Regions from separate parts of the Homo sapiens genome. Here region 2 is reported to be linked to region 1. Evidence: microRNA targets listed by miRTarBase, many of them from high-throughput screens and not tested one by one. Region 1 holds a microRNA gene; the other region holds the end of a gene's coding sequence.
What was found. Region 1 holds the annotated microRNA hsa-miR-4423-5p (AGUUGCCUUUUUGUUCCCAUGC, at 2,984-3,005, shown strand). A microRNA usually pairs through its seed, bases 2 to 8, with sites in the 3' UTR of a target mRNA and lowers its output. Matches are read on the target gene's strand: a 7mer-m8 pairs with bases 2 to 8, a 7mer-A1 pairs with bases 2 to 7 and ends in A, and an 8mer does both.

Region 1 (4,065 bases):
ATCTTAAACTCTGCCAAAAAAGAACCTAAGCTCTAAAGCACCCCATGCTCCCTTTCTCAGCTTCTCCCTGTTTGATACGAATTCTGTGACTCTGCTGGTCTTCCCTTGCCCACTGGAATTTTGGGCTTCTAAATACTTTGTGAATTAGGCTTTTCTCTCTTTCTCACTTGAGATCACCTCAGTCTCAATTTCTGTTTCCCTCTTGCTCCCTCTCTCCTTTGCTCTTTTGTTACCAGCATTTCATCATTGATCTCATCTGTAGGTTCCGTATAGCCAAATACATACATCCTCAAACACAGTTACTCACATGAGGCCTTCAGTCTCAAAAGCATTAGCATGTGGCACTGGGCGCCGTGGCTCACACCTGTAATCCCAGCACTTTGAGAGGCTGAGGCAGGCAGATCACGAGGTCAGGAGTTCGAGACCAGCTTGACCCACATGGAGAAACCCTGTCTCTACTAAAAATACAAAATAAGCCGGGCATGGTGGCACATACCTGTAATCCCAGCTACTCGGGAGGCTGAGGCAGGAGAATCACTTGAACCTGGGAGGCGGAGGTTATGGTGAGCCGAGATTGTGCCATTGCACTCCATCCTGGGCAACAAGAGCGAAACTCCATCTCAAAAAAAAAAAAAAAAAAATAAAGCATTAGCATGTGGAAATATTGTAATGTGCTGCATTAGCAAATAAATTAACATTATCACTCATTGATAAATACTAATTAGTGCAATAAAAGCAGAGGATCTCATTTCAAAACATGTTTGGTGACAAAGTGTAAAAGAATGCCAATTAATTAAACTTTCATTGCATTCCACTGCTACAAACAAATTGATCTTAGTTTTGTTCTTTTGCACTTAACAAATGTTGATTTGTTGAGATTCTATTGTGGGAGAGAATCTGCCACCCTTCCCCTTCCCCAGCAATTATCCACGATTATTATGAGTGTTTAAATACCATAGCAACAGCTCCTAATTATCTACATCAGTGGGAGCGAGTAGAATTGTGGATAATCCAAAAATAATTTGCATGTGAAATACTTTTTAAACACCTGAATATTATAATAATAATATCTTAAATTGTATTATACTTTTCAATTTCCAAAACGTTCCCAACTTCTTGTAACTTTATTTCCATTTGATATGGTGCCCTCTTTTAAGTAAAGCCACCACTTCTCAAATTTTCTCTGCAACTATGAATAGATTGTGGGTATGTGAATGAATTTGAAAGGGTTCCTCTGTTACATTGAGAACATAAAAAAAGTCACTAAGGAAAAACAACTAATGTTAGTCAGAAATGTCTCCTTCTAAGCAACGGCTGATAAAGGGGGAAATGGCAACAGTAACAACCTCAGAAGATTGCAATGGAGCTTAAATGAGTTAAAATATTTACAGCACTTAGCCAATAACTGGCACATAGAAAGTGTTCACATGTTCGTCCAGCAAGGCTGGCCTGTGTGAGTGCTCACCAGGTGCCAGGTTGAGGCTGTACAGTTCAACACAGATTTCAGGAAAATCATGCACCTGTCTCTTTGCAAACATAAAATCTGGAAACAGCTCACTCCTCAATGGACAATAATAATCACTGCTCTAGTTGCATATGAAATGGGAATTTTCCTAACCAGAATTTCAGCTGGAGACTCAGCCTGGGACAGTAGTCATTGCCGTGTGATCCACAAGCTATGCCATCCATATGGACTCAGAAGAGGGGGATTTCAAAAGAATTCTGCAACCTCTAGGCTATTAGTCACCCTCCAGTCTACATAAGGGAAACAAGAGTTATAGGGAAGAAGGCCGGAAAAAGGGACTTTTTTTTGAGAGACAGTGGTTGGGGACCATGTTTCCCCCCACTCCCTCCTTTCCCAGCACATCTGACTGCCTCCTGCCCACCTGCCCTCCTGCCTTCCTGCCCTCCATCCAGCCCTTTCCAGAAAACAGCAGCCAGGTCAACTATTCACAAACAGCCCCTTCTCATCCTTTGGTATTTTTAGATATCAGTGTTTTATAGGGATGTCTTGTTTTTCTTCCCCCCCCAGAAAACATATCAGAAGTCAAAAGAACAAATGCAGGCTGAATTAAAAATGGACTATGAGAGTTATCTGGAACTGGAAAAGACTGTTCTTATCAACCTTGGCCTAATCAAAGTCACAGAGAAGGGGTCATACATGGAGGTGATGTAAAAAAGCTTCCTGAAGGGGTGTTTTGGGGACTTCTTCCCTCTATTTATTTTTATGTCAGGTGAACTGGCATGCTGAACATATATATATATAGGCTCATTTATAGACTTTTATTTCCCTGCTATTAAAACTTTTGAATTTTAGCAATGAGATCTATTTCAGTTTTTGTACCATGTATGTACCAAATTTTGTACTGAATATGAAAGTGTTCTTTTTTAATGAATGTTTTCAATAACAAAATTTGTATTTTCCTATAATAATAGAGAACTTTGGATGTCCCTTCCATCCCAATCCTTGCTGTCCACACAGAGGCCCTCATTCCAGGCAGAAGGGGAAATCAAACTGCTCCTACTTATCAGCTTGCTTTTGGCCACCTTTCCAAAAAAAGTGCTTCCCCTTGGCCACTGTACAAACTGTAGGGCCATGTGCTAAACAAAATATTAGCAAATCAAATCCAGAAATATATATATATATATATTTTAAAGAGGTTAACACATGAAGACAAAGTTGGGTTTATCCAAGGAAGATAAGGTTAATTTAAGAGTAGAAAATAAATCAGTGATTAATCAAAAGAGAGAAATTATGATGCCAAGTCGATGCAGAAAAACATTTCATAAAAGTTGACATCAATTCATGATAATAATGATACATTCTTGGCATCTACAGAAAGAATTCCTGTAATGTGATGAAGGGCGTGTAAAACAATACTACACCAAACATGGTACTTCATGGTGACAAGCAGAAAGCTTTCCCCTGAGATGTGGAACAAGACACAGCTCACACCATCAGGTGCCTGACATCATGTACTGCAGTTGCCTTTTTGTTCCCATGCTGTTTAAGCCTAGCATAGGCACCAAAAAGCAACAACAGTATGTGAAACTGAGACACAAAAGAGCTTGGAGCCAGATTGTGAAGGCTCCTGTTTACCAAGCTAAGGAGCTGGATTAGAATTTATGGGGAATGAATGGAAGGTCTAAACAGGAAGTTGACCCAATCAGCTTTATTTTTAGGAAACAAGGAATGAACTAGAGCAGGGGAGAGTCTCATGGCAAGAAATCCTATTAGGAGGCAGGAGGAATTGTTCAGGGCAAAGGATTAGGATGCCCTGTACTAAAGCTTAATGTGAAGATAGAAATCAAAGGCTGGTTGGATGGGGAAGGGAAGACAAAGGATAATACCAAGGTTTATAAGTTAGATTGCTAGAGGAAAGAAAACTTTGTCGGATAGATTTTAGCTCTTAACCACCTGTGTGCCCTTGAACAGATGACCCAGCTCTGTGAAACAGATTCCCCTTCCATCAAGTCAGGTTGAGAGAACTTAACTTGCAGCATTTATGTAAGGGGCAAATGAGCCCCTGCAGATAAGGGGCCTGTGCCTGGCACATATTATTGTCATCATGATTGAAATATCCCAGGGCTCATCCTTACACTTGAACTTCTTTTATTCTTTCTTTTTTCTGCACTCACTTTCTAGGTGCATGCATCCACTCTCAAGGCTTTAGATACTACCTCTGTCCCTGACCTGGCCTTCTCTCTAAAATCAAGAGATGTGTATCTATTTGACCTTTTGTATCTCCACTTGGATGTTTAATAGGCATCTCAAACTTAAACATGTCCAAAATTGAGTGCTTGATGTTTCCCTTCAAAAACCATTCCTCCAGCAGTCCTCCCAGCCATGATGCTGCTTGGGGCAAAAGCCTTAAGGTCATCCTTCATCTCCTTTCTTTCACAATCCACATCCAATCTGTCAGCAAGTCCTGTTGACTACACGTTCAGTATGCATGTGAAACCTGATCGCTTCTCTTCTCCCTCACTGCTACCACCATGGTCCAAGCTGCATCATCATCAGCTTGGATTTTGCAGCAGCCTCCTGTTCTCCCTGTTTCTATGTTG
Region 2 (4,065 bases), not on the chromosome of region 1:
TTAGCTTACTATTGCCATCCCCCTACATCTTGGACTCCTCCTCCATATTTTAATGAGAGTATTGTGGTAGACATGAAAAGCGGCTTCAATCTGGAAGAACTGGAAAAGAACAATGCACAGAGCATAAGAGGTGAGAATTGTGTGTCGCTGCTGTCTTCATCAGCTGACAGGCCAGTGGAGCTCTTACCTGTTTACATGGGCTTGCTTTCTTTCCCAGCCATCAAGGGCCCTCATTTGGCCAATAGCATCCTTTTCCAGTCTTCCGGTCTGACAAATGGAATAATAGAAGAAAAGGACATACATGAAGAATTGCCAAAACGGAAAGAAAGGAAGCAGGAGGAGAGGGAGGATGACAAAGACAGTGACCAGGAAACTGTTGATGAAGAAGTTGATGTAAGTGTGTCCTCCATGAGTTAAAACTGAAGTGAGTTTTCTAGCATTATAATACATAATGGAAGGAACTGAAGATAGGAAATATTTGAGGCTTGTGATCCATTAGCCTTAATTTTGCACATCCCGTTATATGTACCTCCAAAGAGTTAATTTTTCAGGTACATAACTACTTGGATTAAATGAGCAGACAAGGGCTACTAATCCAGCACTATTTTTCTTTGTCACACAGGAAAACAGCTCAGGCATGTTTGCTGCAGAAGAGACAGGGGAGGCACTGTCTGAGGAGACTACAGCAGGTGAGGCAGGCAAAAGGGGTTCTAACGAAGCAGCATGGTATAGAATCACTTTTACTTTTTGAAAATCTCTTTATTTTCCTGCAATATAGGTGAACAGTCTACAAGGTCTTTTATCTTGGATAAAATCATTGAAGAGGATGATGCTTATGACTTCAGTACAGATTATGTGTAACAGAACAATGGCTTTTTATGATTTTTTTTTTAACATTTTAAGCAGACTGCTAAACTGTTCTCTGTATAAGTTATGGTATGCATGAGCTGTGTAAATTTTGTGAATATGTATTATATTAAAACCAGGCAACTTGGAATCCCTAAATTCTGTAAAAAGACAATTCATCTCATTGTGAGTGGAAGTAGTTATCTGGAATAAAAAAAGAAGATACCTATTGAAAAATGTAAGTTTTATTTACAGATCAGGCCACAGGTTACAAAATTAAAACCAACAGCAGTTTTGAATTATCTGTACCAGCTAGCTGAACTAGCCATATCAGTTCTTCTTTCCAGTCATTCAGCATTGTAGTAAGAAAACACTTGGTAAGGCAGATGGAGACATATTTATAGTCTATAGTCTGTCTGGGAAGCTGACTGCCAGACAGGGCAGTTTGTCATCTTTACCTAGCTGACACATCTTTTTCCATGGCTTGCTACCGATAGGCATTGAAGCCTAGCAACTGTTACTTCCCACGCATGCTATCTTCCAGGACTTCCTGAGAAATGCTTGCTTACAGTTCAAATTCTGTTTCACTTTATGTTTGAGATCTCGGTATATCTTCGGATTAGGTTGAATTTGCCTGTTGGGTCTGGAATATACCATTTTTCCCAAACATCAGTATATGAAGCAGTCCTTCCCCATGGCTTCAAATGTCCATTCCAATGGAGTAACTTGGCAGCCTTTACAAACTGAGGTGAATATCGTTTTCCAGCACTGGAACCTTACATTTGAGACAAAAATAGCCACATCGTTGCGCCATGTGAAATTGTGCAGAAAACTTACTTAAGGGAAACAAAGAATATACCCCATCCCTGAGGATAGTTCTTTAGATACCAATTCTTTACTAGCTTATGCCACTGGTTAATTCTACTTACCAAGGTGGCGGACATTCCACATAGGATCGATGGTAGAGTGCTGTTGATAAAATACGATAAGCAGAGGAGGTGTTGTGATGCTACCAGCCAGGGTTCTGCTATACAGTCCCTCTCTTGGTGGGACAGAAAACAAATGTTTGTTAGTGAAAAGTACTGACTAACTCCTGTTAGTCAAGACTCTAGGAATTGAAATACAACAGTTTTTCACAGCTAGGCCAGTTACATACTTACTCTACATTGAGTTTCATCCATTTTTCCAGTTGGTTAGTTATATTCTGTCGTTTCCATTCCGTCAGGTTTGCAACAAAAACTCCAGGATTAAATGAGCAAGTGCTGGCTTTCATGGAAAGCTTACGAATTCTTTCCTTTTTATAGTCAAGATAGCCAATGTAATTGTACTAAAAACACAAATAGGATATATGTACTTACTGCTTCAAACAAAATAGATACAATTTTATAGCCAGTAGAGAGAAGAGCTGTTAAACTGACTTCTTCAGATTAGAAAATAAATATTTGAAATTCCAAGTTAGAATAGGAACCTAGATGTTGACATAATAAACCAGATGTTCAAGAACAATTAGGCTGTCAAGTCCATGAAGAAGTCTACAGAAAAGCAGGCTTGAGTTTTGGGATGAAATGATTGGGGAGTGTAAATTGCAGCAAAAGAGTTCCCTGAATTTGCAACCTCTTCCCATTAAACAATATTGTAGGAAGAGGGGTGTTTGGTAAGCAATTTACCTGGTTTCCTGCTCCACGGATGACAACTTTAGTAGAGGCTGAATCACAATCTTCTGAAAATGCAGCTGCATGTCCTGGCTTCAGTGCTGTATTGTAAAGGGCAAGAATATCACCTGAAATAGACAAGATGTTAAGATTTACATTTCCGTTGCCTTGAGAGTTCCCTGTTACTCCCACTTCTCCCTATGGTGACCTTTTATAGAAGACCATAAATAAACCACTACAGCCCACTGTAGCCCATTGTTTTATTTAGCAATTGTACCCAATCTGGGTGGAGAACAGCACTCATGGTGACATTTTTGATACCTTGCACAATTACATCATCATCCATGTATATGGCCTTCTTTGCGCTGGGAACCAGAATTGGCAAGTAGAACCTTGCAAAGGTTAACTGGAAAAGGAAAGAATAATTGGCATAGGATACCGCACTAGCTGTGCTTTTATTTACACAGAAACTCCTAGGATGCTTTCAGTACCCATTCAGGAGAAGAAAGGACTCTTAGAACCACCCAGGCTTGGTCCCCAGGAAACTACTTGCACTATACCCACAGATACCCAGGTATTCCATTATTTCCTAATACTGCCAAGTGCAAAGAAGGATGCATGGAACTCACAGGTTTCATGGATTCCCCCTGGTCAGGATCCTCCTTTACTTTTCCTTCCAAAAGTTTAGGGTCAAAATTGACAATTTTGTATCTGATGCTTTTCAGGGAATCACTGTTGAGCCAGGACCTGATGAAGATAAAACACTACATTTTAGTTTCAAATAATGTCTCCAAACCAATGAGGGAATAATGCAAAAGAAACCCTATGGACCAAATAGGTGTTTTCAAGCTCCTTTTATCTCTGAGCTTTGGTTTCCTCGTCTGAAGTGAGGGTAATTCCCACCAAAGTCCCTCCCTGAATTAAGATTGTATGGTAATTATCTTCTAACACTAAAACTACTCTAGAAAAACTATAGAATTAAGAACATTTCATCACCACCTGGACTATCCAACTCTTAACTGTGGTGACCCTAATTCCACCACTCAAGTCTGAGGCACTACCTGTAAGAAAAAACTGTTTGCTAAAGGAGTACTGCACATTTTTTCTAGGTCAGTTTCAAATCAGTGTTTTGTGGCTACTTAGTGTTATTTCTGTAGTCTATTTTTATACAGCTTCTGTTTCTGTATTTTAAATGCGTTCAGAATTTACAGCTTTAAAAACTAAATATGAACCATGCAGAGGGCCACAAGGACCAAAATGTTTCAGAAATTTGACAACTGGTTAATTTGTTAGACCAACAAATTTGGAGTAAGTTTTATAAGTCTTATTCATTTTCAAAATGGATTAGACTATCCAAGTTTCCCCAGATCACTCTGGGCCAGGATTTGGATCAGGATCTGTGATCAGCATCACAACACTACCTTGCCATTGTTGCTAAGTCCCTTCCCACTCTAGACCAGAACTGCTCCGAGCATGTCCATGAAATAAGGAACTTGTGACTTGTAAATCAACATTTACTGCTCCCTTCACTGAGAAAGTATTATTATCAAAACACCATCAGGTGGGG

Region 2: the mRNA of GNL3 is a reported target of hsa-miR-4423-5p. Seed matches in the 3' UTR shown: 7mer-m8 at 985-991.

What each region holds. Positions count from the first base shown.
Region 1 is chr1:85,130,823-85,134,887 of GRCh38, forward strand. It overlaps MIR4423 (microRNA 4423), which reads left to right and starts at 2,972; the gene lies at 2,972-3,051. It overlaps DNAI3 (dynein axonemal intermediate chain 3), which reads left to right. Exons shown (of 23, transcript NM_145172.5): 23 at 2,033-2,316. The coding sequence ends at 2,176.
Region 2 is chr3:52,693,415-52,697,479 of GRCh38, forward strand. GNL3 (G protein nucleolar 3) reads left to right here. Exons shown (of 15, transcript NM_014366.5): 12 at 1-130; 13 at 218-393; 14 at 623-689; 15 at 779-1,083. The coding sequence ends at 861. GLT8D1 (glycosyltransferase 8 domain containing 1) reads right to left here. Exons shown (of 10, transcript NM_018446.4): 5 at 3,128-3,245; 6 at 2,820-2,904; 7 at 2,514-2,626; 8 at 2,007-2,173; 9 at 1,776-1,888; 10 at 1,072-1,621. The coding sequence ends at 1,431. Among named protein-coding and RNA genes, the nearest start is that of SNORD69, 2.7 kb to the left of the region's middle.